Linked DNA regions of Homo sapiens: region 2 is linked to region 1. Evidence: fine-mapped expression QTL. Tissue or cell type: tibial nerve. Region 1 holds a variant in brackets; the other region holds the start of a gene. All regions are shown on one strand. Distances are from middle to middle.

The links. PIP is the estimated chance that this variant, and not a neighbour inherited with it, causes the effect.
Region 2: FA2H starts here. The variant in region 1 is fine-mapped to the expression of FA2H in tibial nerve (GTEx, PIP 0.98).

The regions. Positions count from the first base shown.
Region 1 is chr16:74,733,453-74,736,207 of GRCh38, forward strand. The region is part of intron 2 of FA2H (fatty acid 2-hydroxylase); the gene reads right to left. Among named protein-coding and RNA genes, the nearest start is that of MLKL, 34 kb to the left of the region's middle. RefSeq lists an enhancer at 43-602. The variant G/T (reference allele first, on the strand shown) is at 1,462.
Region 2 is chr16:74,773,618-74,776,372 of GRCh38, forward strand. It overlaps FA2H (fatty acid 2-hydroxylase), which reads right to left and starts at 1,203. Exons shown (of 7, transcript NM_024306.5): 1 at 869-1,203. The coding sequence starts at 1,138. RefSeq lists silencers at 840-889, 930-1,299, 1,310-1,439, 1,450-1,509.

The DNA.
Region 1 (2,755 bases):
CAGCTTGTAGCAGCCTCCACACAGTTTCCCAAGAGCTGGGACTGGCACCCTGTGCACTTGACCTTGATTTAGGTGGTACATGCACTGATAGGGTGTCCTTTCTTAATCATCTTCCAGTCGTGAGCACTGAAGGAGAAAGGCTCAGCTGGGTGCTGAGAGGTTCCAGGCCTCTCACTTGCTGGTCGTTTCCAACATGGCAGTTGGCGGGACCGGGTTTTGAGATGGGAGGACAGCAGACGATGACGGCTTGGGATCCAATGAGATGGGAAGCGATGCAAGACACATTTCGCTTCCTGCTCTACCTGACCAAACAATTGCCTTAGCTCATTGCCATGGGGGTGGGCAGCGCTGCTGACACTGAGCAGCTGCCCCGTCCCCCGCCTGCCCCCGCTCACCACATTTGCCACCTTGGGGAGCAGATTCTGGACACACCCTTCCCCAGGAAAGCGTCCTATGCCACCTGGCCCTGTATTGCCTGGGAGGAGGGGTCCTGGGGAGGCAGAGGAGGAAAGCAGGGAAGGCCCCCTTCTACCTGGGCACCACGCCCTTCCACCCACCCTCTTCTACCTGACCGAAGACCCCTCTCCTACTCCCACCACATTAGTGGGTCTCTTCCTTCCAGCTCGTTCCTGGTCCGGGCCCCATTTACTTCTTATGTCCCAAGGCTCGGGGGACAGAGGGAAGGCATGGGTCTGTGGGCTATGTACGTGGCTCGGGTGGGGGAGAAGGGGAGATCAGGCCACACTGATGATGCCTCCACTTCCCAGGCATCTGGGGGCTCCCACGGCTCCCCCTACAGTAACAAGTCCCCTTTTACAGCAGTGGAACCCGACGCTAGAGAGGCATGTCCAGCACTCAGGGCCGTCCAGAGGAAGCTGGCCTGCATGGGCGACAGCACGGTTATGCCCGAAACTGCTCTGGAATGAGCAGCTCATTGGGGTGGAGGGATTTTTTGGTGATTCAAAGACCCGACCAACGGGCCGGGGCCCAGGAAGCAGATGCAAGGGGGAGTGGATTCGGCCAAAGCACCTTGTGCCGACTGTGTGGGGTCCATGCCCCTCCCCCAGCCTGCTCGGTCCCTGCCTTAGAGAGAAGGGGAGGGCTTCTCCCAGGCTATGCCAGGAATGTGGCCCACAGCAGCACGGCAGGGGGAAAGGGCAGCCTGCTGCCCAGAGGGTGGGCGGAAGGGCATGGTGCCCCGGTAGAAGGGGGCCTTCCCTGTTTTCCTCCTCCCCCTCCCCAGGACCCCTCCTCCTGGGCAGCACAGGGCCAGGTGGCATAGGACGCTTTCCTGGGGAAGGGTGTGCCCAGAATCTGCTTCTCCCTAAGGTGGCAAATGTGGTGAGCGGGGGCAGGCGGCGGGGGCAGGGTAGCTGCTCAGTGTCAGCAGCACTGCTCACCCCCACAGCGATGAGCTAAGGCAATTGTTTAAAGAAATGTCCACCCAAACTCAGGCATATT[G/T]CCCCAGGGCAGCTTTCTGAGCAGAGGTGGAGACAGGCTTCCAGGCAGCCGGGGCTGCGGGAGAGGAGTGGGGGCCGGTTGTCTGCAACCTGGTCGCTGGTCAGCTGGGGCTCAGGCCTCACATCCCCTATCCTTCATGAGCCTTAATTCTGGGAGTTGGGGCCGATGATGACCTCTTTTGACAGATGAGAAGACAGGGTCAGATGTTCGGCTGCATATGCTGTGGCAGGGCCTGGACTCGAGTGCCCCACTCACAGCCCAGGCTCGGCCAGGAGGCCTCCTGTCAGCCAGATTGGGATCCCATGGCTGTGACTTCCTCAGCACAACGGCTGTGATTCCTCACAGCCAGCAGCGGTCAGTGGGGGCAGTGAGGTGGGGCTCTTGGTGGCGTTGCCGGAGTGGCTGCAGGCCCGTCCTGCGCGGTCTAACTGGGACAAGCTGAAGTCCACAGAGGTGGTTCCGGATCACCTGCCTCCTCCCCCTGAGCCCTATGACCCTCCCGTCACCCAGGGGATGTGAGGACAGGGAGGTGGCCTCAGGCTCACCCCACGAGGATTCAGGCAGCGGAGAGTGGATAGGGAGCAAAAATGCCAGAGACACAGGGAGAGATGAAAGACAGCTTGAGCGCTGGCAGAAAGCAGGCATGACCTCTGCCCTTAGGGCTGAAGACGAGCGAAGGGAGCCTGCCCAGGGGCCCCACCCCAAAACCAGGTAGGGTGGTCTTTCCCTTGCAGCACACTTTCTGATATCCTTTAGTACATTCCACTAGATCCTCCAGATAATCCTACGCAATAATAAGATGCAGGGTTGCAATCCCAGCACCTTGGGAGGCCAAGGTGGGAGGATCACTGAGGCTGGGAGTTTGAGACCAGCCTGGACAACATAGCAAGACCCTATCTCTACAAAAAAATTTAAGAAAATTAGCCAGGCATGGTGGTATGCACCTGTAGTCCCAGCTAATTAGGAAGCTGAGGTGGGAGGATGGCTCAAGCCTGGGAGGTTGAGGCTGCAGTGAGCTGCAATCTTGCCACTGTACTCCAGCCTGGGTAACAGAGTGAGAACCTGTCTCTAAAAAAATAAAAAAGATAGAGGGAATAGCTTTCTGCATCATACTGGAACACTGTGGCATCTCTTGCCTCCCAGCCTGCCCTGTCCACTGCCCTCCCAGGGTGTCCTCTAAGACCCACGGAAGCAGAGGGCAGTGCCCAGCCCACCTGCCTGCTTTCTGCCTTGGGGTATTTTTTGAGCACCGCTGAGCTCCTCTGAAGAGGGGCCAGGAGCTCTGAGCAAGGAG
Region 2 (2,755 bases), 40 kb after region 1:
TTTTGGAGTCAGATACATGTGGCTTTCCCACTATTTAGCTATTTGACCTTAGGCGCATTAATCAGAGCCTCCCTGAGCCTCAGATTCCATATCCTGAAATGGGAATAACAAAACCTGCCCCAGGTTGAGTTAAGGACTTAAATACCATCGGGAGCTGGTACTGCACAGAAGCGTGCAGCTCAGCACACAGTCTGGTCCAAAGTGCTGGTCCCTTTTCCTTGGCAAAACTGGCTCATGCCTTTCATTTCACTCTTTTGGAGTCCCAAGCCAGCGTGTAGGACAAGAATATAAGGGAAGGTCTGAGAGGTTGGAGGACACAGTCCACCCCAGACATGGCCCAGGCAAGGCCAGGGCGGCACCAGGAAACCCAAGCTAGTGAGAAGAGTTACTGATCTGTGCCTCTTTGAAGCAGAAGTGAGGTGGGATGGGGAGGTGGGAACAGGTTGAGCCCATTATCCAAACAGAAACGGAGAGTGGTTGCAAAGAGGGAGAGGCCGATAAGTGAAGAGGAAGGAAAGCCGAGGCGTATGGGGGGCTGGGGACAGAAACGGGAATCCAGGTTGTCGGAGGGCAGGGGCTGCAGAAGGAACACGCTGGAAGGAGGGGTGCTGGGGAAATGGGAGAGCTGGCACGGAGGCGGGCCAGGCGGTAAGGGTGGAAAGGAAGAGCAAGTTCCTGGAGAGAGGAAGGAGGGGTTGGAGGGGACGACAGTGACCTGTTGCCTGGAGAGAAGAGAGGGAAAGCGAGGGAAGGGAGGGCAGAAGCTGTCACCTTGGGTCCTGCTAGAGGGCAAGTGAACGGGGCTCGCCCGGGAGTGGAAGGCTGACGGAGGCCTGGGTTGGGGTGGGGGGCCCCGGCCCGGCTGTACCTGCTGCTCCCCGCGGAGCTCTCCCACGTAGTACTGCTCCAGCCAGCGGCGCGCGTTGGCCGAGTGCCTGTGCGGCGGCCCGTCCAGGTCGGCGCTGATGTCCTGGCCCGCCCTGGCCCGCAGCAGCTGCTCGCCCCCCGGGTGGTGCCGCACGAAGCTGGAGAGGTCGTAGAGGCGGGCCCCGCGGCGGACCCAGCACGCGCCGGCCGCCAGGCGCCGCTGGACCTCGGAGGGCGAGAAGGAGGCGGCGGGGGGCGGAGCGGGGGCCATGGCCGGAGACCGCAGCTCCCAGCGCGCAGCCCGGCGTCTGCTCTGCTGCCACCCTGAGCGCCTCTAACATCCCGGGAGCCCCGCGGCCGTTCCGGGCGGGCCGCCACCGCACCTGCTCATTTGCATACCGCGCTCCCATTGGCCGGCCGGGAGCCCCGGCAGAGCCGCGAGGGGCGGGCCCGGCGCCGGGAGCTGCGCGCCAGGTGGCCGCGGACAGGGAGTGCCGCGCCCGCCAGGTGTGTCCCGCGCGGGAGGAGGGTGGGCGGACACAGGCGGAGCGAGTCTCCCCGTCGCGGGTGGTTGTCTGGGCGGACATCCTCGGTGGCCTGATCGCTGCTGGAATAACTTCAACTGCTTCCACGGAGGAGCTGGCCGCATGGGACCCTCTGGCTCCAGGAGGTGCCCGAGAGAGCGAGAGGCGAATGAGGTGCTCGCCTCGGGTGCAAATATTTGTTTGTTTTTAAAATTTCAGTAGCTTTTGGGGTACCAGTGGTTTTTGGTTACATGGAGGAATTGTATAGTGGTAAGTCCTGAGATTTTAGTCCACCTGTCCCCCGAGTAGTGTACATTATACCCAATGTGTAGGGTTTTGTGTGTGTGTGTGTGTTACACCCCCTCCCATTCTCCCTATTGTCCATTATATCACTCTGTATGCCTTTGCGTCCTCATAGCTTAGTTCCTACTTATGAGTGAGAACATACAGTGTTTGGTTTTCCATTCCTGAATCACTTTCACTTAGAATAATGGCCTCCAGCTCCATGCAAGTTGCTGCAAAAGACTTCATTTCGTTCCTTTTTATGGCTGAGTAGTATTCTATCGTGTATATCAACTACATTTTCTTTATCCACTCATTGGTTGATGGTTATTTAAGTTGGTTCCATATCTTTTCGATTGTGAATTGGGCTGCAAAAAACAAACATTCGTGTGCAAGTGTCTTTTTCATATAATGACTCTTTTCCTTTGGGTAGATACCCAGTGGTGGGATTGCTGGACCGAATGGTGAATCTACTTTTTCTCTCCTCCCCTCCCCTCCCCTCCCCTTCCCTTCCTTTCCCTTCCCTTCCCGTGACAAGGTCTCACTCTGTCACCCAGGCTGGAGAGTAGTGGTGCGATCTTGGTTCACTGCAGCCTCGACCTCCCGGGCTCAAGCAATCCTCTTACCTCAGCCTCCCAAGTAGCTGGCACTACAGGCATGCACCACTACGCCTGGCTAATTTTTGTATTTTTTGTAGAGACGAGGTTTCACCATGCTGCCCAGGATGGTCTCAAACTCCTGGGCTCAAGCGATTTGCCTGCCATGGCCTCCCATAGTGCACTTTTTTTTTTTTTTTTTGAGACAGAGTCTCACTCTGTTGCCCAGGCTGAAGTGCAGTGGCACAATCTCAGCTCACTGCTACCTCCGCCTCCCGGGTTCAAGCGATTCTCCTGCCTCAGCCTCCAGAGTAGCTATGACTATAGGCGCGTGCCACCACGCCCGGCTAATTTTTTTGTATTTTTAGTAGAGACGGGGTTTCACCATGTTGGCCAGGTTGGTCTCGAACTCCTGGCCTCTAGTGATCCTCCCGCCGCAGCCTCCCAAAATGCTGGGATTACAGGCGTGAGCCACCGCGCCCAGCC